Linked DNA regions of Homo sapiens. The protein of the gene in region 2 purifies or fractionates together with the protein of the main gene of each other region. This does not show direct contact. Each region holds a gene or a part of one and is shown on either strand. Other genes may lie near its edges. The genes, in order: SLC35F6, PSAT1, THADA, TMEM150C, ITM2C, TIMP2 and ACAT2.

What was found.
Region 1: the proteins of PSAT1 (region 2) and SLC35F6 purify together in Homo sapiens (co-immunoprecipitation; one large-scale study listed by IntAct). This does not show direct contact.
Region 3: the proteins of PSAT1 (region 2) and THADA fractionate together in Homo sapiens (co-fractionation; one large-scale study listed by BioGRID). This does not show direct contact.
Region 4: the proteins of PSAT1 (region 2) and TMEM150C fractionate together in Homo sapiens (co-fractionation; one large-scale study listed by BioGRID). This does not show direct contact.
Region 5: the proteins of PSAT1 (region 2) and ITM2C purify together in Homo sapiens (co-immunoprecipitation; one large-scale study listed by IntAct). This does not show direct contact.
Region 6: the proteins of PSAT1 (region 2) and TIMP2 purify together in Homo sapiens (co-immunoprecipitation; one large-scale study listed by IntAct). This does not show direct contact.
Region 7: the proteins of PSAT1 (region 2) and ACAT2 fractionate together in Homo sapiens (co-fractionation; one large-scale study listed by BioGRID). This does not show direct contact.

Annotation. Positions count from the first base shown.
Region 1 is NC_000002.12:26,774,284-26,777,783, reverse strand, and holds part of SLC35F6 (solute carrier family 35 member F6 precursor), read right to left. Parts: coding exon 3,461-3,500; intron 2,741-3,460; coding exon 2,569-2,740; intron 2,321-2,568; coding exon 2,108-2,320; intron 1,413-2,107; coding exon 1,302-1,412; intron 1-1,301. UniProt on the Homo sapiens protein: Involved in the maintenance of mitochondrial membrane potential in pancreatic ductal adenocarcinoma (PDAC) cells. Promotes pancreatic ductal adenocarcinoma (PDAC) cell growth. May play a role as a nucleotide-sugar transporter.
Region 2 is NC_000009.12:78,321,125-78,324,624, reverse strand, and holds part of PSAT1 (phosphoserine aminotransferase), read right to left. Parts: intron 1-3,500. UniProt on the Homo sapiens protein: Involved in L-serine biosynthesis via the phosphorylated pathway, a three-step pathway converting the glycolytic intermediate 3-phospho-D-glycerate into L-serine.
Region 3 is NC_000002.12:43,233,195-43,236,038, forward strand, and holds part of THADA (tRNA (32-2'-O)-methyltransferase regulator THADA), read right to left. Parts: intron 1-2,844. UniProt on the Homo sapiens protein: Together with methyltransferase FTSJ1, methylates the 2'-O-ribose of nucleotides at position 32 of the anticodon loop of substrate tRNAs.
Region 4 is NC_000004.12:82,485,833-82,488,988, reverse strand, and holds part of TMEM150C (transmembrane protein 150C), read left to right. Parts: intron 1-3,156. UniProt on the Homo sapiens protein: Nonselective cationic channel with high permeability to Ca(2+). Component of a mechanosensitive cation channel, confers mechanically activated (MA) currents with slow inactivation kinetics. May contribute to proprioception.
Region 5 is NC_000002.12:230,867,942-230,871,441, forward strand, and holds part of ITM2C (integral membrane protein 2C), read left to right. Parts: intron 1-3,500. UniProt on the Homo sapiens protein: Negative regulator of amyloid-beta peptide production. May inhibit the processing of APP by blocking its access to alpha- and beta-secretase.
Region 6 is NC_000017.11:78,855,933-78,859,387, reverse strand, and holds part of TIMP2 (metalloproteinase inhibitor 2 precursor), read left to right. Parts: intron 1-1,741; coding exon 1,742-1,866; intron 1,867-3,455. UniProt on the Homo sapiens protein: Complexes with metalloproteinases (such as collagenases) and irreversibly inactivates them by binding to their catalytic zinc cofactor. Known to act on MMP-1, MMP-2, MMP-3, MMP-7, MMP-8, MMP-9, MMP-10, MMP-13, MMP-14, MMP-15, MMP-16 and MMP-19.
Region 7 is NC_000006.12:159,760,545-159,764,844, forward strand, and holds the start of ACAT2 (acetyl-CoA acetyltransferase, cytosolic), read left to right. Parts: upstream 1-1,500; 5' UTR 1,501-1,543; coding exon 1,544-1,598; exon of another isoform or gene 1,599-1,788; intron 1,789-1,934; exon of another isoform or gene 1,935-2,093; coding exon of another isoform or gene 2,094-2,235; intron 2,236-2,374; coding exon 2,375-2,509; intron 2,510-4,300. UniProt on the Homo sapiens protein: Involved in the biosynthetic pathway of cholesterol.

The DNA.
Region 1 (3,500 bases), on a different chromosome or scaffold from region 2:
ACGTGTGCACAGGTTCATGGACACACACACACACACACACTCATAAAAACATTACCCTTACAGTATACAATGCTCTGATATTTAAAAATTCTATTCATTTAAAAAAAGAACTGCCAGCTGCAACTGACTACATTATTTTCACAAGTTTGGAAAAACACAGCTTTCTAGTTCAGTGTGTTACTGGTCTGTGACAAGGAGCTTGCGCCAGAAGGTAAGTCCATGCACTGCTTCACTCATTAAGGTCTTGCTAGAAAACAGAAATGAGTGGAAATAGACTGCATGCTCAGTGATATAGCTAATTCACATTCTGCCTAAGTCCCTTAGCTCACCGGGGGCCAGACAAGAGCTGCTCCCCAACAGGCACTAGCCCCCAGGACATTCTTTGAAAGCGCAGCTGTATCTTGCTAATCTCATAATTTTGATACTTACTTCCCTGCTCAAAAACTTTCAGTGATTCCTCCGTCATTTAAAGTCTAAATCTACTTGCCTGATGGTAAAGTTCTCTAATGACATGACCCTGACCTACTTAATTCCTGATTATTTCCCCAACATCAAACCTATACTGCACTCAAATTATTATTTTTTGAGATGGAGTCTCGTTCTGTTGCCCAGGCTGGAGTGCGGTGGCGCAATCTCGGCTTGCTGCAGCCTCTGCTCCCCCAGTTCAGGCGATTCTCCTGTCTCAGTCTCCTGAGTAGCTGGGACTACAGGCATGCGCCACCACGCCCAGCTAATTTTTGTATTTTTTGTAGAGACGGTTTTGCCATGTTGGGCAGGCTGGTTTCAAACTCCTGACCTCAAGTGATCCACCCGCTTTGGTCTCTCAAAAGTGCTGGGATTACAGGTATGAGCCACCGCACCTGGCCACACTCAAAATTATTCCTCACTGGTTTTCAAATTCACATCCAGTCCCCTGTGCCTTTGCTCTGTTTGGAGCTGCTCCTACTACTGCCTGTTGAAATTTGCAGCTCGAATGCCACCCTCCCTGCCCTGAGAGACTCAGATAGGCATGGCCAATGAGACATCAGTTGAGCACAAGTGGTCCAAACTTGAATTCACTGACTGCCCTTTCTTCCTGCTGGTCACCTCCTCTGAAGGGCTTGCATCTCATTCATCTCTGTCCTTGGTCTCCTCTAGTTCCTGACACAGCAGGTGTCAGAAGACTTGTCAAAACACATCTGGAAGGCAAGGCGGGGCAGGAAGTTCACCCCCCACAAGTGAACCCTGGCACCTTGTCCTGTGCTCAGCTCCCCAGGCTCCCTTCTACCCCACTCCTTCCAGGCCCCTGTGCCCACACACACCCTCAGTGCCAACTGCCCGCAGTGGGTGCACATTGTGTTTGTAGACGAACTTCTCCTCTAGCACCATCTGGATGGCAACGATGATCTGGGCCATGATGATCAACAGGTCCCCTGTGGGGAAGGAGGGACCCAGATGAGAACAGGGCTGCACTGGGGCTGGGGGCCAGGAGAGCATGGCCACAGCGACCAAACATGCCAGCCCCTGACCTCTGCAGGGCCCCCTATAGTTCATAGGCACAGTCACCACTGCCTGTCCCTGATTCCCTGGTTCCTGAGGGGCATGCCAGCAGTGCCAGGCTAAGGCCCCAGAGGCCTGCCTGTGTCTAAGAGCTGCCCCACGGGGTATGACGCAGGTCTTTCAAGAAGCAACAGGCTTTGAGATAGACATTTCTTGGTTGATCCTGACCCTAAGTGACCCAGGACAGTCATTTCATTGTAAAATGGGCTGTGATGCATCCGTTTGGGGCCTGTGGGAGTCACTGTGATGATGAACACACAGTGCTCAGCACCAGGCTGGGCACTTGGTAAGCACCTGTTCCTTTCCACTCCCAAATCCAGTAGTTTGCATGTCTGCATCTGTATCAAAGGACAAGCCAGCCCCTCGCCCTGCCCGGCCTGCCACTCATCCTTGGTGGAGCCACATCCCTTTGCAGTCTTCCCTACATTCTATCCATCACCTCCAGAGCTACCCACCTCACCCAGGGCTTGGTATATGGCACATGGCAGAGCTTGTATGAGTCTGTGCTGGGCTCCCAAGGAGGACAGGGCAGGATAGGGCAGCCCCGTGTCCCTGCCCCTGGCCGCACCTGTGATCACTTCGCTGAGCTTGTGCTGACTGTCGTGCTTGCTCAGGAGGTCAGCCAGGCCCACGACCACCAGCCCCGCGATGGTGGCTAGGATGCCCAGCCACTGGCTCAGCACCAGCCTCCGGCCCAGGAAGGCCACCGAGAACAGGCCAGTGAATATGATCACTGCACCCCGCAGCATCTGGAAGCTGGAGGCACTGGTCATGTTCAGAGCTAGGAAAGGAGAAACAAATTACAGTTAGCTTCCCAAGGCGAAGGCCATCTGTCACTAAGGGGTCTTTGGTGATAGACATGCCAAGCTCATAGTAAGCGCTCGATCAGTCCTGCCTGTGTGCCTGTGCGTGTGAAGTCTGGGGGAATGGTGGGATGAAGTGGAGGTGGGTGGGATAGGGCTGTTTCACCAGTAGCCCCTTCAGCCACAGCTTCCCCTGAGCCCTTCTCAGCCTGGCCTGGTTACTCACCCACATACATGAGGCTGGTCCCTGTCATGTCACAGAGCGCTGGGGGCAGGAAAAGAAGAGGGTTGAAGGGCTGCTGGGGGTCTACGCTGGAGTCTGATTGCCCTGCAGCTCTGCATCGGAGGAGGTAGAAGGCAGCCAGGCAGGAGAATTCTCCCAGGAACATGCCCACTGCCTGCAGGGATGAAAACCCGAGGACTTCAGAGCTGGAAGGGATCTCGGGGATCATCTTTAACTATTTTTTTTAATGCAAACTTTTGTCAAACAAGAGCTTACCCAGAACCCCAATATGTAAAATAGACAAATGCAGAGCTGCCATGGAGGCTAGAGACAGCCTCCTAGGTCTGCCCCAAAGCCCCCATACATCCTGATGAACCCTAAGGCTGTGCAGAGCCCTGTCTGAAAACCATCCATCTAGGCCAACCCCTAGTCAAATCGCAGGTGGAGAAGCCTAGACCCAAGAGAGGCTCAAAGACTTATGTAAGGCCACAAAGCAAGTTGCTGGTAGAGCTGGGGCTGACATTTGAGTCTCCTGATTCTCAGTTCAACGAACAGTGTCTTCCATTTATGGTGTCTGCCCTGTCCCAATTGGGGTCTGGGCTCCCAGTGGATAGAGAGCTGACTTTTGTCACTAGGGCTGATGTTTTCCACGTGTCCTGACTTGGATGTGGTGAGGACATGACCACTTGCCAGGACTTTCGCAGAGGATGGTGCTCTTTGCCCTATTCTAAACCTTGGATTCTGCTCTGGGGAGGGAAAGAGAGAAGTGGATGGCTCTTCTGGGAGCAGGAGACACCTCCACTCCTAAGTCAGGAAACAGCCTGGCCTCATGGCCGGGGGTGGCGCCTGGTCTGAGGCCCGGGAGACAGGAGGTAGGAGGGACAGGGCCAGATACCTGGAGGAAGGGATGCTGGAAGCTGTGCTCCTTGCTCCCT
Region 2 (3,500 bases):
AAACATGGGTGACCCCGTCAAGCACCACTGTGGGCTGGATCTAGCCCCTGCTCCCCAGTGAGCAATCAATCCCTGGAGTTAACACCAAATTTCAGAGGTGACCAGGTCTGTTGTTTGAATGGGTTGAGGGCCGAGGTAGGAGAAGGGGCCAAGGCAGACTGAGAGGCTATGTGGGCTATGGATGGGCATGGAACCAGCTGGAAATCCCAGGGCTGCAAAGATTTAAGGAGAAAGTCCAAGTGGGAACCAGGGAAAGAGCCGCACTTCCCAACATCTTGGTGGAGCACGAAGATGTCAACAGGCATTCTGGGAAAGTGGTTCCATGGCCAGAGAAACTTAGGAAAGCTGCATTCACAGAGCTAGGCAGACCTCCTCACTCCTGACTTCCTGAAGCCTCTCAACAGCTCACCGACCACGTAAATGAGGAACCCCAGGAGGTCAGACAGGAACGCAGTGTTCCCCCATGACTGAAAAACCCTTCCTATTGTGGGGATGAGAGTTCCAGACAGTCCCCTCGGAGACACGCTGCTCAGGGACACACCGGGACTTTCCAAGGTACTGGAGGAGGGGAACATGGCAGAGGTACACCTTCAGCCAGGGACACCCATCCCACGAAGGTGGTAAGGCTCAGAAGGGAACGCAAGAAAGTCACAGGAGATGAGCAGGCAGTGAAGAAACATCACTCCACAGTCAGGCCCCTCTGAAAGGATGTGTCAGATACACAGGGAATGAGAAAGAAGAGTATGTGAAGAGAAGCCTACCAAATGCAACCCTATGTAGGCCTCTCCTTACTGCCTGGTTTTGTCAACAAAAAATTAATTTTAAATTTGTACATGATTATGAAAATCTAGAATAAAAATATGAAGATCTGCCACCCCTCTTCCCACAAGAGGTGGCTACCCTAATGGTCTGCTGTGCATTCCTGAAGATCATTTTAGATATACACATGTACGTCTGTGTGCATATGCATGTATACATGTATGTGTGTCTATGTGTAAATATGTATGTATATATAACTCTTGTAGTTTTGTTTTTGTTTTTGTTTGAGACAGGGTCTCACTCTGTCACCCAGGCTGGAGTGCAGTGGTCCAATCTCAGCTTACTGCAGCCTTGACCTCCTGGGATCAAGCGATCCTCCCGCCTCAGCTTCCCAAGCAGCTGGCACTACAGGCATGTACCACCACACCCGGCTAATTTTTTATTATTATTATTATTTGTAGAGACGAGGTCTCACTATGTTGCCCAGGCTGGTCTCAAACTCCTTGGGGTCAAACAATTCTCCCACCTTGGCCTCCCAAAGTGCTAGGATTACAAGCATCAGCCACTGTCCCTGGCCTTGTTGTAGTTTTTAAAGACTAATAGATTTGTCTTTTCCTACACTTGCTCTTGCTCCTTTTGGTCTGATGACATAACACAGTCATCTTCCCATGTCTGCTAAGAGACCCGCTTCATCCTTCTCAATGCAGTCATTCCATATTACCCACAGATCCTCATTGTTTTCATCAGACCCCTACTGATGGGCACAACTGCATATTTCCACCATTACATCTTACATTGGACTTGCTGGTCCCTAATTTTGTGCACACCACTGTACCCAGGCAGAGTGCTGGGGAAGGGTAAATCTGTAGACATCAAAATCCTTGGTCAAAGCCCATGTAAGTTTTGAATTATAATGAGCGCTGCAATCTTTGCTCCAAATTTGTCCAGATTTATACTCTCACCAAAAGTGCATGCCCTTGCTGGCACCAGATGTTATCAATCCTTTTAATGTATGCAGATGAAAGGCAAAACATATCTCATGGGTTTAATCTGCATTTCCTAAGGAACTAATGAAGGTGGCATCTTTCCATTTGTCTATGAGGCAGCTTGCATTTCTTCTGAGTTGTTTCCTCATACTGTTAGCAACCACCACACCCCCACTTTTATTTCCTTATCCTTTTTCATTCATCTGTGGGTTCTTGCCTAAATTAAGGATAGTAACCTTTATGTTTAATATACTACAAAATCTTTCTCATTCTGTCATTTTTGATTCTGTTTATGATGTCTTAAGCCATATAAAATTTTAAAATTTTCATGTAATTAAATACGTCATTCTTTTACTTTATAGCTTGAGTTGTATGTTTAAGGCCTTCTGCACTCCTGGACATAGACAGCAGCAGAGGTTCTGGAATGAGCCTTCCACCCCCATGTTCGTAGCCTGGCTGGTCCCACTTTCCAGCTGCATCCTTGTCCTATCTGTGCTTCTGCTGCATAGGCTCAATGTCTACTTCACAGGGTTGTGATGACAACAAAATGCATTCACATGTGTAAGGTGCCTAGGACTCTGCCTGCTTCATTTTATTTTAGGGTCTTCGCTAGACCCATCACGTGCCTCCTTCTCTTTCCTAAGGCCTGGTACCCACATAAGGTGATAAAGGTGACCTCAGATCCAGACATGGAATCTGTCACTTGGACATCCTTATATAATAAAATTAATATATATTATATACTTATATAATTAATTATATTACATAAGCTTATATAAGCACTGTGTGTCAGGAATATCATAATTGCTTTATATAACAATAACCACAAATAATGATATTAAGAGCTAACATGCAAGGAATGCTTCCTGTGTGCCAACCACTGTTTCTAGCACTTTATACAAATTAACCAGCACAAGAGTCCTCAATCCTTAATGTAAAAATGCTCTCAATCCTTATATTATATATTCTTGATTCAGAAGCATTTCCTTTTAATTCTCTTGACAATTTTAAGAAGTATGTATCATTACCTCCATTGTACAGATGAGAAAACTGTGGCTTAGAGCAGTTAGGTCATTTGCACGAGGTCACACGCACCACCGTGGCAAAATGGGGCTTCTAAGCCCAAGGTGCTAAACGGCCCACGTGGGCTCAACATGGGGTCAGTCAGCACAGTGTGGGTGACTGGGCTATGGAATCAACTTGGAGGCTTCGATGGTTGTCTTATCTAGTCCCAGAATTCCCTGCCAAGGTCACTGGCAGGGCTGGTGAAACCCCCAGCAAACAACCTGGAACTATGTTAAGGAGCTGGTTTACGAGTCAGGGGGCATGGAAGTGGGGAGGGGGTGCATCTTCTCAGAGACAAAAATGAGGAGCAAAGGTGGTGGTAAATTGCAAATTCTAATTCTAGGTATTCCTCTTTAAAAGTGGCCACCTCCCATGGGGCCATGTTGCTCAACTATTTCCATAGTTCCAAAGAAAAGAAGAATTTCCTGAAAATCTAAGTGAGTTCAGGCACAGCCTGGGAGTCTCCAGCTATAAACAGAGGAGAGACAGAGTACAGCCTCCTCTCTACTCCAGTAACAAGGTCCCACAGAACACCAAGTGCCTGGGATGACGCTTTCCAGGCAGGCAACTGAGGGGGTGGTGGGAGTTCCTAGAAAGAGGTTTATTCTTAAAAGGACTGGAAGTCCTGGGTCAAGGCAGTTCAGAAATGAGTGAAGAGCTCTGGGTGTGAAGGATGACCAGATTCCCCAG
Region 3 (2,844 bases), on a different chromosome or scaffold from region 2:
AGGAAGGCTTCCCTGTCCAGTGTCTCCTCTGCACATCTGCCTGGATTTGACTGGTTTGCCCTTTCCTTGGAAAGCAGATCTCTTGGGCACAAGACACATCCTAGAGCAGGGCATCGGCAAGCTTTTCCTTAAAGGGCCAGAGAGTCAATATTTTAGACTTTGCAAGCCTATACCTCCTCACCTCGGCTGAAAGCAGCCATGGACAATCTGTAAACAAATGGTTGTGGCTGTGTTCCAATAAAACTTTATTTATGGACACTGAAATTTGAATTTAATGTGTCACAAAATATTATTTTTTCCCAACCAATTAAAAATGTAAAAACCATTGATAGCTCATGGGCTGTAAAAAGCAGGTGGTAGGCTGCATTTGGCTCCTATTTTGCTGCCCTCTGTCTCGGAGTTTTTTGTTTTTGGACCCTTGTTTTCCTGGGTGCTTGGAGGAAGGGCACTGAAAGAATAGAAGGGTGCAGAAAGAGGAAGCAGGGGGCCTTGGGGAAACCATTGCTTATTTCAACATTTGGCCTTAGACAATCCTAAATATGGGTTTGGAGGGAGGCTCAGGGGTGTTGTCACTTCCCCTAACAACTCTGCCCCTCCCATCCCAAACCTGGAGGGTGTCTGAAACACGGGACTGAAAGCCCACTGCACAATGGACCTCTGTAGGCCCATCTTGCACCAACTGACATTGAAAGGCCTGTCTTTCAATGATGCATTTCTATTGAGCCCTGATCACTCCCAAATCCACATCTCTAACTTGAGCACACAGACTTACCCTGACCATCTGGCCCCCGAAAGACTTACTCGGCACACAGGCAGACGACCGAGAATCTGCAACAGCAGGCTTAGTTCCCGTGGGTGTTGAACCAGGCTTACTGGGATGGCCCCACTGAGGGCCTAGTGAGTGCCAGGCCCTGATCAAATGCTGTCTCCCCAGTCCTTCTAGCATCCTATGGGTTGGGTATTATGTAACCCACTTGCACACATCAAGAAATTACAGTTGGCAACAAGTTTCATGGTGCATGCAAAGCGCAGATTTGGAGACCCAGCATCAACAATCCAGAGGTTTTGATGGTGGGGTCAGCAGGGGTAGTGACCCTGCAGTAGGGCCAGGACTATTCAGAGGTCACACAGCAGCACCTAGTTGCATGTAAGCAGGTGAAAGTACTGATCTCACCATCTTGAGAGCTCCAGATAAGTCCCCCAGGACACTTGCCCTTTAGTGTCCCCGTTCCCCATGCTGCTTGCTCTGCAGCCTAGAACCCAGATTTAAACCAGGAAACAGAAAAGGGGAGGGGGTGAAGGTGCATTTTGGCTGTGGGTCTGAGCCATGTGTTGACTGGGCCTCTACCTACAATACAATCTCCATTTTTACCTCTACCTAACTCCTTTCTGCAGTTCTCAATTGGCTGAGAATCTGTATAGAGAAGGGATAATTAAGTGGCCTTTTTCTTTCTTTTTTCCCTTCAACTTTTATTGATTGATTGAGACAGAGTCTGTTGCCCAGGCTGGAGTACAGTGGCGTGATCTTGGCTCACTGCAACCTCCGCCTCCTGGGTTCAAGCAATTCTCCTGCCTTAGCCCCCAAGTAGCTGGGACTATAGGCATGTGCCACCACACCCAGATAATTTTGTTTTTGCCCAGCTAATTTTTGTATTTTTTGTAGAGACTGGGTTTCACCATGTTGGCCCGGCTGGTCTCAAACTCCTGACCTCAAGTGATCTACCCACCTCAGCCTTCCAAAGTGCTGGGATTACAGGTATGAGCCGCTGCACCCAGTGGGTTTATCACTCTTTTTTTTTTTCTCAGACTGAGTCTTGCTGTATTGCCCAGGCTTGTGTGCAGTGGCGTGATCTCAGCTCACTGCAACCTCCACCTCCCGGGTTCAAGCGATTCTCCTGCCTCGGCCTCCTGAGTAACTGGGATTACAGGCTCCTGCCACCATGGCTGGCTAATTTTTGTATTTTTAGTAGAGATGGGGTTTCACCATGTTGGCCAGGCTAGTCTTGAACTCCTGACCTCAAGTGATTCACCCGCCTCAGCCTTCCAATGCGCTGGGATTACAGGCATGAACCACTGTGCCCAGCTTATCACTTTTTTGTTGTTGTTGTTTTGTCTTGAGACAGAGTTTCGCTCTTGTTGCCCAGGCTGGAGTGCAGTGGCACCATCTCGGCTCACCGCGACCTCCGCTTCCCAGGTTTAAGAGATTCTCCTGCCTCAGCCTCCCAAGTAGCTGGGATTACAGGCATGCGCCACCACACCCGGCTAATTTTGTATTTTTAGTAGAGACGGGGTTTCTCCATGTTAGTCAGGCTGATCTCGAACTCCTGACCTCAAGTGATCTGCCCCCTCGGCTTCCCAAAGTGCTGGGATTACACCCATGAGCCACTGTACCTGGCCTCCCACCACTTTTTTTATGGTCTCCTTAAGGCAAGGACTGAAAGCCCAACAGGGAAGAAAAAAATTTCATCATCCATCAGCAAAATCAGTATCTGCAGCTCAAGTGACATTCCTGTTGAGTCCATAAAGAACCTATGGGGGTGACCAGAGATGCCACCAAGGAAGGCTAGGCTGCTGCACTAGCCCCACCTGACAGGACAGGTAGCCTCTATCCTGCACCATTTTTTTTTTTTGAGACAGAGTCTCGCTCTGTCGCCCAGGCTGGAGTGCAGTGGCGGGATCTCGGCTCACTGCAAGCTCCGTCTCCCGGGTTCATGCCATTCTCCTGCCTCAGCCTCCCGAGTAGCTGGGATTACAGGCACCCGCCACCACGCCCGGCTAAATTTTTTTTGAATTTTTAATAGAGACGGGGTTTCACCGTGTTAGCCATGATGGTCTCGATCTCCT
Region 4 (3,156 bases), on a different chromosome or scaffold from region 2:
AGCCCAGGAGTTTAAGGCTGCAGCGAGCTAAGATCGACTCTGTCTCTAACAATAAATAAATAAATAATAAAGGCCTGGTGCCGTGGCTCATGCTGTAATCCTAGCACTTTGGGAGGCTGAGGCAGGAGGATTGCTTAAGCCCAGGAGTTCAAGACCAGCCTGGGCAAGATAGCAAAACCTGGTCTCTATAAAAATTTGTTTTAGAAAAATTAGCAGGGTGTGGTGGTGTGCACCTGTAGTCCAAGCTACTTGGGAGGCTTGCGGGGAGGATCACTTGATCCCAGGAATTTGAGGCTGCAGTGAGTTGTGATCATGCCACTGCAATCCAGCCTGGGTGACAGAGTGAGACCCTGACTCAAAAAATAAAATAAAATAAAAGGCAAAAATAAAAGAAGTGTTCACTCCAGTAAGGCCCTCCTCAGAAAACCAGAGAAAGGAATCAAGGTTCCTAAAGGGTAGATTGTACAGAAAATGCAATTACACATCTTCAGTCATAATAATCACCAATTTTTAGACAGCGTGCTAGGCATTATTCTAAGTACTTTAAATGTATCAACTCTTTTTATCCTCACTTCACATGTAAGAACAGTGAATCATGGAGAAGTTTAATTTGCGCAAGATCACACAGATAATGCGTGGTGGATCGAGATTTAAACTCAGGCTCAGCTCTTCACTCTTAACCACTTCAGACCCCACCTTAGAGAAAGTAGCTTTAGAATGAAACAATGGCATTCGCAGCAACCTGGTTGGAATTGGAGACCATTATTCTAAGTGAAGTAACTCAGGAATGAAAAACCAAACATCCTGTGTTCTCACTCATAAGTGGGAGCTAAGCTGTGAGGACACAAAGGCATAAGAATGACACAGTGGACTTTGGGGACTCAGGGGAAAGGATGGGAGGGGGATGAGGGATAAAAGACTACAAATTGGGTGCACTATACACTGCTTGGGTGGTGGGTGCACCAAAATCCCAGAAATCATCACTAAAGAACTTATTCATGCAACCAAACACCACCTGTTCCCCAAAATCCTATTGAAATATAAATAAATAAATAAATATAAATAAAAAGTTCAAAATAGCTAGAAAGAAATAAAGTATATCAATTCAAAGAAAGAGAGAGAAAGTAGCTTTAAAATATGAATAGAAGCAGACCCTAAGATGAGGGGGGGAAAGAATAAAATATGAAAACACACACAGTTCAGAGCCCATTCTCTAGTTAGTGGAGTATTTGGACTATTTATTTTTTCTTCATTCACAAATTCCTGTTCCACCATTTTGCTGATTTTCCAAAGTTCTACAGTCACATTAGATAGAGAACATTTAAGGACTTAAGTTCAAGCCAAAAAACTTGGTTCTTGCTAGCAACCTAATAAATACTTTATGAACAAAAAGATCAAAACTCTGCCAATATAAGATAAAAGGAGATATGCTTTCTCCATTAATTTAAGTAATAAGTTAATATTGCTTTGGCAATATTTTGCATCCTTGTTCAAAAGAGTGTGCAGACTTTAAATCACTCCGAGATGTTTTTTGTGATTTAAGACAGGGTCTCATTCTGTTGCCTAGGCTGGAGTGCAGGGGCATGATATTGGCTCACTGCAACCTCCACCTCCTGGGTTCAAGCCATCCTCCCATCTCAGCCTAGAGAGTAGCTGGGATTACAGGCACACACCAAAACACCCGGCTAATTTTTGTTGTTTTAATAGAGACGTGGTTTTGCCATGTTGCCCAGGCTGGTCTCGAACTACTGGGCTCAAGTGATACACACTCCTCGGCCTCCCAAAGTGTTGGGATTACAGGCATGAGCCACCTTGTCCAGCCTATCCCAAGTTTTGAGCTTTCACCAAATGATTCTGATTCATGCTCTTTCTGAACACGTGGAATCTTTTTTTTTTCTTTGGTTCTCAGGTGAATGGATGAAGGCCCAGTTAGCAAAGCAAAGTTTGGCTGAAGTAATTTCACATTCTTGCTCTCTGAAAATTTCCCGATTTCAGGTCTAATTTCAGAAGATAGAACTAATTCTAAGGAGACATTTCTGATCTTTCTAAGTAAATGCATCTAGTTCCTCAGACACTTGGCCTTTCACTAAAGCTGCTATGAACTTTTTACCCTTCTTCCCAGCTCCTCCTTCCATTTATTCTGTTGTGTATATACAGATACAGATACACACAACACACACACATACACACACTCCATATATATATCCAGGCATAAGAGTCTCATTTGTTTTTCTTTTTTTAATGATGGGGCCTTGCCGTCACCCTAGCTAGAGAGCAGTGGTGCAATTGTAGCTCACTGCAGCCTCAAACTCCTGGGCTCAAGTGATCTTCCCACCTCAGCATTCCAAAGCACTGGGATTACAGGCATGAGCTACCCCACCTGGCCTCATCTGTTTATCATACAAGTTTAGACGTGATACGAGGAATGAAACTGGTCTATACAGTATTGTCTGAAAGACAATAGTGAAAATTAGAAGAGACAGGCCAGCCACTCAGACACGGTTAGTAGCACTGCAGAGCCAAACACAACTTACATGTCGGCAGTTAGTAATTTGATATGTTCAAAATTATTTCTGCAGATATAACGATAACTATGAATTCATAGTCATTTGCAGTGCTTTCTTCTTTTTTTTTTTTTTTTTTTTTTTTTTTTAAGATGGAGTCTCGCTCTGTCCACCAGCCTGGAGTGCAGTGGCCGGTCTTGGCTCACCATTTGCAGTGATTTTTTTTTAAAATAGCTTAATTTTTCTGGCAAACTAATTACTTTGGAAGTGTAATCCTTTTCCTAATCTCCCAGTTTTGTAAGCAGCTACAGAGTACAGCTATTGAATACATGGCGCAGGAGTTAGAGTGCTTGTTTGAGCCCAGCTCAGCCAATTAATACCTGTGTGACCTCAGGCAAGTTACTTACCCATTTGGTCTCAGTTTCCCTATTTTTAAACAAACTGACAATTATTTGGATAAGAGAGTATTTAAGGGCAAATAGAACATGTAAAAATGAGAAACAAAAACAATGATAATAGGATTGTTGTGAGGATTAAGTGATACTATCCATGAAAGCACCTAAAAGCATGTCTACCACCAAATATGAGCCCAATAATGTTAACTTATTATTCATATAGATTTTCGTGTTCAACAAGCTCTAGCAGGCTACCA
Region 5 (3,500 bases), on a different chromosome or scaffold from region 2:
AGCCACCACACCCGGCCCAAAACAAGATGTAAAAAGTGATCCGCAGGAGGAGCACTCGGTGAACAGATGATTGTGCGGTGAACAGATGATTGTGCGTTGGGGCAGTTCTTGACCTGTGTCCAGGCCCAGAGTGAGGGCGGGGTGGGGGCAGGGTGAGGCGGCAGGAGCACCCTCTCGGTGGGCACTGCCCCTGCTTCTGAGCAAAAACTGCAACACAAGGAGGATTTTGTCTGTGGACCTGAGACTGGAAGGAAGTGCCTCAGTGGGCCAGGGAGGGATGGGGGTGGGGGCCAGCTGGGCTTCCAGCTGCCCGGCCTCCCCCCCTGGTGTTTTGACTCTGAGATAATGAGGAGCTGGGACACTGCCAGCTTGGGAAGTGGGCTGGACCGGAAGCACCCCCTGGGACAGCAAAGCACTCCCTCCCAGCGCCAACTGGATCCCTCCTCCCCTTTGGGGGCCCACTGGCTGGCCATGCCCCTCTTAGCCTGCCCCTTCTCCCCACACCCTGCCTGTGCCTGCACTCACACACACACACACACACACTTATGCACACACATGCACGCACAGATGTGGGCATGTAGAGGCTCACGAGCTGGGGCTGTAAGGGGAGAAAAACAAGTTAAATACAATCATCTTCTTACCTCTGTAATTTTCTCCTTGGCATTTGCCTTTGATTAATGGTCCTGTGTCACCCCCTCCCCAGCCTGCATACCTGGGGATCAGATTTCAGTTTCCTAGTGTGTCCTGGTCTCAGGCCCTCGGCAGGAGGAGCTGGGTCTCCTGGAGCGGTTGGGGGAGGGTCCCGTGCCAGCCAGGAGGGCAAATCTGGCCAGCTTAGCCCTACCCCAGTGTCCTGATGCCCACTGGCCAAGAGGGCCTGGCCCGAAAGCACTTTGTGGAGCAGCGGCCCTGCTCCATCCAGGTCCTTCCCTGTGGCAGCGTGGGGACTTTCATGGCTGTCGTCCATTCCTGGGATTTGGCGCCCCGGCAGGCCCCACGGTGGCTTCTCTGCTTTCCTGCCGCTTCTCTCTCCATTCCCTCATTTCTGCTCTCTTCTCTCAGCAGTCCTTGCATGTTTCAAGACCGTCAGCAGATTGCCAGTGAGGATGAGTTTCTCTTAGTGTGGAGAAAAAATGTTTATGGTGAAATCACAGAGGCACAACCTGGCCAGCCCCTCTGTCCACCGCCCCACTCTCTCCAAGTTCCCTCTCCCCATGAGGGCTCTTCCAGCAGTGAGCTTTTGTTGTCTGGAGATGCCTTGACTATCAGGGATGGAAGAGAAGAGGGAATTCGCCTGGCCCAGCCAAGCCGAGAGCGCATCTGCACAGATGCTGCCCGTGGGGCCTGCAGTCTGGAAGGGAGGACAGGAGAGTGATGGGGACCCCTGACCCTGTTGGCAGATGGCATCTGTGCCTCTGGACCACTGGGCTCTGTGTGCTCAGGTGGACAGTGTTTGCCCACTCTCCTCTCCCCCAGCTAGGCTCTGTCTTGAACACATACAAGACACACACACTCGGTGGGTGCCCTGGCCTCTGTGGTCTGGAGCCTGGGAAAGAAAGCTGCTGAGGACCAGGAGAGATGTGGGGGAGGTGAGATGAGACTGCCTCCCCAACCCCCATCTTCCCTGTTCTCAGCCTGGGCCTCAGGAGTGCGTTTCTGGCTGCCGAACCCCTCCAGGCAGGCTGCAATCTGCAATCATCGTTAAATCGGCTTGCAGTTAATTTGGACATTGTTACTGGGGGATGGGGCCCGGGAGCGCTCCCTTCCAGCTGTGGGGGTCTGCCGAGTTAATGCTACAGTTGGCTGGTTTCCCCCTGACCATTTTGGCCCTGGCTTTGGTAAATCATTTAATGAGTGCCCCTGTGGGTCTCAGTTTAAGCCTGCAGGGAGAGGCCCAGGCCTCTCTCGGGTCCCTGGACTTCCGGCTCATGCGCCCTTCGCTCAGAGAGCTCTGTTGCCTTGGAAACAATATGCAATATTTTTCTACTATCTAAATGGGAGCCCCCCTCCTCAGATACCTCACTGTCAGTAACTGCTTCCTATGGGGAGCAACATTTTTCTGGGTCCCCAGCATGATAGGTGGTGCGGCTGGGGTCTCAGGAAGGTGGGCCATTCGGCCATCTTTCTAGTGAGCTGGGCACCAGGGATCCCAAGGGGCCAGGGCTCTGGGTTGAGCCCAGGCTCCCTGATGCCCCACTGTCCCCAGACAGGTGTAAATACCCCGAGATCACAGGCTGCTTTGAGGGCCAAAGGGACAGTGAGGGTTCCAGGGCTTTGGTGTTTGAGCCTTGGTGTTGATTGGGCACAGTAGGCAGAGGCAGCGCTGGGGCGGGATTTAGGAGTTCTGCCTCTGTGTGGGGCTTTATGGAGGAAATGCCTTCGCCTCCAAGCAGGGACATCTGCGCTTTCCTGTCTACTTTCTGGTAGCCTGTAATGCTGCCTTCTGCACTTCTGCTCATAATGGTGCCTCTGAGGGTTTGGCTCTGCAGGCTGGAGCGGAGCTGGGAGGGTGGCAGCGTGGCTGAGCCCGGGTGTGTGCTGGGGGACATCAGCAGGGCCATGAGAGAGAAGTGCCCACCCGCAGTCTAGGTAAGGTGGGGGATCCCCAGCCTTCACAGTGAGGGGTCTTGGCAGGAACCCCTGCCCTTCTCTGCCACACCTGCCACTGCTGCTCTTCAGCTGGGGCCGTGGAAGCCTCACCTTCTCCCTGCTCTGTCTTCTCTAACCTCCCTCGGTGGGGCCTCCGAGCCCAGCCCCTCCCCCAGGACAGGGAGACACGGGACCCAGCTCAAGTTCTGCAGACCAGCATTAAGGCGGAAAGGCGGAAAGGCGAGGCTGCCCTTTGCCATAAAGCTAGCAGGCCTCACCTTGTCGGTGAATTTGATTTGTGGAGCAGGCCCTCGGGCTCTCCCACGTAGCGCTTTGACTTTTTTTTTTTTCCCTTTTCTGTCTTTCTGGTTGTTAGCAATCTCACAAGCTAGTTTCCCTGGTTTTCCAGAATGCAGAAGCAAAAGTCTGGCCACAATGCAGCCTCAACAGCTGTCCACAGAGTCAGCCCTAAAAAGGAAAGGCTCGGCTGATAAAGATCTGCTATTTTTATCTAGCACTTGATCCTTTACAAAGGGCTTTTAGGTTCTTTGTCTCGTTTAATCCCAGCAAAACCCCTGTCACGCAGAGTCTGTCCACATTTTGCATGGGAGACCCGAGAAGGGGGAGGTTGCAGGGCCCCGCTGGGCCTGTAGCCCCACTTGACCCCTAAATACAATCTGAGCCCTGGTGTTTGTTGTGTCCCGAGGGCAGATTTCCCAGCTGCTGTAGGCAGCCTGGCCTGTGTCAGGGTCAGCCACCTTTCCTTAAGACCTGCTCAGGAGCGCCAGAGGGGCAGGAGGGCATCCCTGGTGCCTGGTTTGCAAGAGCTCCTGGGTGGTTCGATCCCTGGGAGATGCCAACGGAAGGTGTCACCCCCGTCTCTTGCTGCTCCCGGGAGTCCATTGGAAAAC
Region 6 (3,455 bases), on a different chromosome or scaffold from region 2:
GCACCTGGCCTGAGGGATGAGTTTTTAAATGACTTCCATAGCTGTCATTAGGTTCTGTCAGCCACTGGAACACACTGCTTTGTTCTTTTCCTCCTGCTTGTAAAACGCCAAGGCTATTGCCAATGTAGTATCTTCAGCAAAGGAAGGAGGCAGCTGAGTCAGGAGCCGGAAGTACAGAAAGAAGCCACAGCTCATCATGCCTGATGAAGGGAATTCAGAGCAGATTCCTAATTTTCAAAAATTCCATGCTTTGGCTCTTCATAATGGAAAAATGCAGAATTATAAGTTTAAACTCAAATGGGAGAAGCACCTGTGAATTAATATTTTGTGAAAAACAAAACAGGAAACAATATAATCTACATACTGCATGACGTTTTATGTGTGAAGATGCACATAGAAGAGAATATTGGCCGGGCGCAGTGGCTCACACCTGTAATCCCAGCACTTTGGGAAGTCAAGGTGGGAGGATCACTTAAGCTCAGTTCAAGACCAGCCTGGGCAACATGGTGAAACATCGTCTCTATCCTTTTTTTAGAATAAAATTTAATTTAAAAGAATATTGGGGCCAGGCGTGGTGGCTCATGCCTATAATCCTAACACTTTGGGAGGCCAAAGTGGGGGTATTGCTTGAGCGCAGAAGTTTAAGACCAGCCTGAGTAACATAGCAAGACCCTGTTTCTACAAAAAAAAATATAAAAAATTAGCAGGGTGTAGTGGTTCACACCTATAGTCCCAGCTATTCAGGAGACTGAGACGGGAGGATCGCTTGAGCTTGGGAGGTCAAGGCTGCAGTGAGCTATGATCATACCATTGCACTCTGGCCTGAGCGACAGAGCAAGACTGTCTCAAAATCAATAGTGGAATATTGGAAGGAAATACATCAAAATATTAGCTGTGGGTAATGAAAGTAGGGAATTTTTTTCTTTTCTTTTTTTTTTTTAGACTGAGTCTCGCTCTGTCGCCCAGGCCCAGGCTGGAGTGCAGTGGCACCAACTCGGCTCACTGCAACCTCCGCCTCCCGGGTTCACGCCATTCTCCTACCTCAGCCTCCTGAGTAGCTGGGACTACAGGTGCCCGCCAGCACGCCTGGCTAATTTTTTGTATTTTTAGTAGAGACGGGGGTTTCACCGTGTTAGCCAGGATGGTCTCGATCTCCTGACCTTGTGATCCACCTGCCGCGGCCTCCCAAAGTGCTGGGATTACAGGCATGAGCCACCGCCCCTGGCCAGGAAGTTTTTTCTTTGTTTCCAATGTTTAAGTTTCTGTCAGTGAACATGCATTATGGCTTTCTTTTTTTTTCCACTTTTTATTTTTTTGAGACGGAGTCTTGCTGTGTCACCCAGGCTGGAGTTCAGTGGCGCGATCTCGGCTCACTGCAACTTCCGCCTCTGGGGTGCAAGAGCGATTCTCCTGCCTCAGCCTCCCAAGTAGCTGGGATTACAGGCGTGTGACACCACACCCGGCTAATTTTTTGTATTTTAGTAGAGAGGGGGTTTCATCACGTTGGCCAGGCTGGTCTTGAACTCCTGGCCTCAAGAGATCCACCCGCCTCAGCCTCCCAAAGTGCTGGGATTACAGGAGTGAGCCACCGTGCCTGGCCACCCACTGTGTTTTAACTCAGAATAGACAGTGCACAGGATTGTTGCAACGAAATCCCAGCGCCCCTGCGCCGGGTGGAGGAGCTGGGCAGGAGGAGGACTTTTCCCTCTCCCTGAGCTCGGTGATCCCCGTCTCTCCGCAGGAAAGGCCGAGGGGGACGGCAAGATGCACATCACCCTCTGTGACTTCATCGTGCCCTGGGACACCCTGAGCACCACCCAGAAGAAGAGCCTGAACCACAGGTACCAGATGGGCTGCGAGTGCAAGGTAAGCAGGTCCTGCCTCTGCTGGAGCATCGCCTCCTCCCAGTGTCTCCAGATGGACGGCAGGGATTTTGATCCCTGGCTTTCCAGGACCCGTTAATCCCCGGCTCCTGATCTAAGACCAGGCTCTGGGAAGGTAGAGTCATCCCAAGAGTAAGGCTGTCTGGCTGGGGACAGAGCCTTTGACCCCTGGTCCCTGGAGAGCCCTGAGGCACATCTCTGACAGGGGATGTCTGGAGGCCGGGCGCTGCGGCTCACGCCTGTAATCCCGGCACTTTGGGAGGCCGAGATAGGTGGGTCACTTGAGGTCGGGAGTTGGAAATCAGCCTCACCAACATGGCGAAACCCTGTCTCTACAAAAATACAAAAATTAGCCAGGTGAGGTGGTGCACGCCTGTGATCCCAGCAACTTGGGAGGATGAGGCTTAAGAATTGCTTGAATGTGGGAGGTGGAGGTTGCAGTGAGTTGAGATCACACCACTGCACCCCAGCCTGGGTTGACAGAGTGAGACTCTGTCCCAAAAAAAAAAGAGGGAGATGTCTGGAAGGCTAGGAGATTTGAGAGTAAGAGCATGAATTCAGCTCTGTTACCTGTAGCTTCCAGAAAAAGGAGCTGTATGGGGAGAGAGAATATGGTCCCATGGAGAATTTTCTACAAATGTGCAAGTGCAAACGCCTGTGTGGCTTATGAGAAGGCACTGCAGGCCTTACGCTGTTTCCAACATTCCCGACATTTTCACACCTGGGTTGGTGTCTATGTGGGGTCTGTGTGTTGAGAATACCTGAACACCTGCTCCTCTTAAAATGAGCCCGGAGGTTGTGCCAGGCACAGCTGGAGCAGTGCAGCGCCTAGATGTGGCTGTGGAAGGTGAGATTACCGCCTCCAGGGCTCCCAGGCTGGCTCCTACCCTGTGGGCTCCTAGCACCCTATCCCCACCCTCCCTGCAGGAAGCATGGCTGAGTGCTGGGCACCTCCCACCCTGGGTCACTCCCAGTGAGTCTGGGACCAGGAGACTCTGGTGAGGCTGTGGGGATTGGCCTTCCCTGGGGAGCTGCCTGGGGCTGCCCTCCCTCCTGACGGCCCCCAGCCCCTTCTCCGCATGTTCAAAACAGGAATTCTGAACTCATAGTCTCCAGCCACACGTATGTTAAGCGAAACTCCTCTGTGCCCAGCATGAAATCAAAAGCAAGTTTTTCCTTTTTCTTTCCACGGTGGTGAAGGCGGTCATCCTCTTGTAGCCTAGGGTTCCTTGGCCAAATTGCTAGTTGCCGATGACCTCGGGGCTCGGCTTGCGAGCAACACTGGGCTGGAATCTGTCTCCAGGAAACCCAGGCCCTTTTATTGTTGCTGTGTCCCCCAGAGGGCAGGGCCAAGCTGAGGCCATTCTGTCATGCTCAGGAAGGTAGAAGATGGCCCAAAGGGAAGCACACCTGCAGTAGGAGGGGGGGCAGCGGTGGGCAGGGCACAGCTTCCCTGCAGGTTAGACCCCCTCGCAGGCCAGCTGCCTGCCCCTGCAGGAACCGTGGGTCTCGGGAGAGGCTGCCATCCCTGCACATGACAGGTAGGCACATTGCCGGGTTCTGGACATGCCC
Region 7 (4,300 bases), on a different chromosome or scaffold from region 2:
ACAGGTGTGAGCCAAGGTGCCCGACCTGATGTGCTTGTAAGAATTTAAATGAAGAGGGTCAGTCAGCTTAGGAGACGAGGTTAGATGTAAGGATTTCAGACTTGTCAGTATACAGGTGGTGATTGATGCCGTAGGAATGACTGGTATTACCCAGGGAGCTGGTGCAAAGTAGGAGCCTTGGGGAACATGTTAAGGGGATGTGAGAGTAAGCCCACAAAGACTCAGAAGTGGCCAGGGAGTAAGGGGAAAATGGGATAGAATAGAGCAAAAGCCACGGGAGGCATTCCTTGAATTCCTTGGACTCAGATATGTTAGGGGACAGGAAACACATTGAAGACAACTGAAGAGACTTCAGTGTGCTGCTGAGTTCTTAGCAGAGTAGACAGCTGATTTCACCACTATTCCAGACCCTAAAGATTTCTCCTGAAATTGCACTGTTATGCAATTTTTTTCCTTCTCTATTGCCCCACCTCTGGGGCCTACACTCTTTACCTTCTCTGATTTATCTGACCCATCCGCATATCTCTGCAAAGTCTTAATGTAGGTTTCCAGGATTTAATGATTCTTTCAATCAACTTTAAAGTTCTTCAGGAAGATTCTCCAGGTCCGTCAACAGTTTTCCCCTTCATGACTTTGTGACAAAGCTTTCTTGTTCCACTATCCAGGTGTTCCCAACAAGTTGCTGTAACGGTGGCCCCTCATAAGCTTGCCTGGAAACCCTAGAAAGCTCAGAAAAATTATGAACTTTGCCCAGTAAGAGGCTGGGAAGTCAGAAAGGGTTTTAAACAAAACTGACCCCACTTGTTACATGCTCCTTTCACTGTCCAAACGTCAACCAAAGGAACTTTTGTGACGCTAAGACGCTCCCGGCGTCCTCACCCGTTCACAGCCAGAGTTGATCTTAGAAGGCAGGGGGCTCGCACCGAGACGCTCCTAGCAAGCCCCTCACGCGAGCGAATGACTGGCGCCAGGAGAAACGCATAGGACCTCCCGAAGCCGCCGAGAGCAAAAGGACCCATCAGAGCTGTGCTGAGACCCGCCGCGGGCCGGGCTCGCACTCGAGATTCTCGCCCGTGGGATTCCAGTCCTGAGCTGAACGAGAGATAAGTCTTTGTCACCCCCCAGTCTTTACTGTTTCGAGAAACCCTAAGATTTTTTAAAAAAAAGCCCAAGACGTCAAGTCGGGGAACTCCAACATTGGGGTGTCCAGAAACACTGGGGTTTCAGGCGCTCTGTAAATGCGTCCGAGGTCCGCGGTTCTGCCCGCAAGCCCAGACCCCGGCCTCACTTCCGCCCCGCGCCCCGCGCCCCGGCCTCACTTCCGCCCCGCGCCCCGCGCCCCGCGCCCCGCGCGCCTCCGCCCGCCCCTGCTCCGGCCTTGCGCCTGCGCACAGTGGGATGCGCGGGGAGGTGGTGCGCGGGGAGGTGGAGGGCGAGGGGCGGGGCTACCTCAGGTCCCGCCCGCGGCAGGCCTGTGGGCTGCGAGGAGGAGCTTTGCCTAGCTTGCAGGCAGCGCAGGGCAGACGGCGGCAGGAGAAGCAAGATGAATGCAGGCTCAGATCCTGTGGTCATCGTCTCGGCGGCGCGGACCATCATAGGTGAGTGGCCGGCGGGAGCCGCGCAGAGTCCGAGGCGCCTGCTGCTTCGGCAGGAGCGCCGAGGGCCGGACTTGTGTAGGAGAGGGGCGTATGTGGAGGAAGCCGGTCAGGCCAAGCCGCGAGGAGCCGCGGGATCCCTGGAACCCTGCGGCTCCCGCGTTCCCTGACCTGGTGCTACAGCCCCACCCTCTCCTCTCCCGATGTGCGCACTCCGTCCCTCGTGCTTGGATTGGCTCCCGGGGTAGAGCCATCGCGTGGCCTGCCTCTCCCATTGGTTGGCGTAGGGAGGTGTTCTCCTCCGGGGCCCCTGATTGGCCGGCTCCGGGAGGCGCCATCGGTAATGCCTGCGGCAGGGGCGGAACTGCTAGGTGGTCTGAGCCCGGCTTTGGGCTGGGGTCGGGCTGTCACACAATGGCTAGAAGTCGTGACTTCGTCTCCTTCGTGCCGCATGGTTTTCAACGCCCTTGACCCGCCGGTTCCTTTTGTTTGGGAAGCATGGGGTCGCATCCAGTCCTTCGGATTTGGGGAAATAGAAGGGCTACAGCGGCGTCCCTAGGCCGTTCTGGAGGTCGCCTGTCCAGCCCTCGGCTGCTGCGAGTTGTGGCACCCACCTTGACCTTTGCTCAGACCAGCAGGTGTAGGAACGTGTGGGAGGAGAGGGCACTGCCTCCTCGCGTGGCCTTGCCAAACAGGGTCATGAGGCTCCCCTGCTCGTAGGTGGTTCCCGTATTACCCGCAGGCTTGTGATGTCCACGCTCTCCGCCTTTCTATTGTAGGTTCCTTCAATGGTGCCTTAGCTGCTGTTCCTGTCCAGGACCTGGGCTCCACTGTCATCAAAGAAGTCTTGAAGAGGGCCACTGTGGCTCCGGAAGATGTGTCTGAGGTCATCTTTGGACATGTCTTGGCAGCAGGTAAGTCTCAGTGATTCCAGGAGAAGTCAGGCTTATTAGAAACAGCCCATAAACACACACACACACACACACTCTCACACACTCACACACTCTCTCACTCACTCAAGTTCTTGCCTCCTTGCTTTTGCTCAGAGTTCCCTCTGTTATGATTCCTCCTGTTGGCCCCCTTCTTCCAGCCCTGTCAGTAGCTTCTATCCAGCTTGAGACTCAGCTTCTTGGCCAGGCAGGGTGGCTCCCGCCTGTAATCCCAGCACTTTGGGAGGCGGAGGAGGAAGGATCACTTGAGTCCAGAAGTTTGAGACTAGCCTGGGCAACAAAGCAAGACCCCGTCTCTACAAAAAATAAAATAGCCAGGTATGATGGCCTGTGCCTCCCAGCTACTGGAGAGGCTGAGGTGGGAGGATCACTTGAGCCCAGGAGTTTGAGACTGCAGTGATTGTGTCACTGCACTCCGTCATGGGTGACAGAGTGAGACCCCTTCTCTAAACAAACAAAAAGACTTAGCTTCATTAATATGCTTTTTGTGAATGAACTTAGACCACTGACCTACACCACCTACACTGCCTTTTCTTTTCCTTTTTTTTTTTTTTTTTTTTTTTTTTTTGAGACGGAGTCTCTCTCTGTGGCCCAGGCTGGAGTGCAGTGGCGTGATCTCGGCTCACTGCAAGCTCCGTCTCCCGGTTTCACGCCATTCTCCTGCCTCAGCCTCCCGAGTAGCTGGGACTACAGGCGGCCCACTGCCTTTTCATTCTTACGAAGCAGGGCCGGCCGGGCCCGGTGGCTCACGCCTGTAATCCCAGCACTCTGGGAGGCCGAGGTGGGCGGATCATGAGGTCAGGAGATCAAGACCATCCTGGCTGACACGGTGAAACCCCGTTTCTACTAAAAATACAAAAAATTAGCCGGGTGTGGTGGCGGGCGCCTGTATTCCCAGCTACTTGGGAGGCTGAGACAGGAGAATGGCGTGAACCCGGGAGGCGGAGCTTGCAGTGAGCTGAGATTGTGCCACTGCACTCCATTCAGCCTGGGCAACAGAGTGAGACTCCTTTTAAAAAGAAGAAGAAGAAGCAGCAGCAGGGCCAGCCTGACGCATAGGAAAGTATGCCTGCTCCTCCTTACTACCTCAAAGTGTCACTCATTCAACAAAAATGTATTCAGTTCCTCCTATGTGCCCCATACTGTGCTTAGTGCTGGGAGTATGGTTCCAACAATACAGGTAAGTTCCCTGCCCTCTTAGGGCTCAGTTCTGAGCTTGGAAAATAGGTGCCACATCATGCCCCTTGCAAATGGGGCATATCACTCCCCAGAGGAATATAGCTGAGTCCTGAGAGTGCCCCCATCTTCTGATTCTTTGGGTTTGAACACTCGTAATTAATTAATTAATTATTATTATTATTATTTAAAGAGACAGGGTCTCACTCTGTTGTCCAGGCTGGAATGCAGTGGTGTAATCAATCGTAGCCCACTATAACCTCAAACTCCTGGGCTCCACGGTATCCTCCCACCTCAGCCTCTGGAGTAGCTGGGATTACAGGAGCAGGCCACCACACCTGGCTAATTTTTTAAATTTTTTTGTAGAAGTGGAGTCTGTCTGTTGCCTGGGCGTGAGTGCAATGGCTGTTCACAGGCACAATCATGGTGCACCATGCCCTTGAACTTCTGAGCTAGCTGGGACTACCGGTGCATGTCTACTAAGTTTAAGGCTTTTAAAGCACTGTGCTAAATGCTTTCCTTTCATTACCTCATTTAATCTTCCTCACAAGTCTGTTATATCCTATTATCTTCATTTTA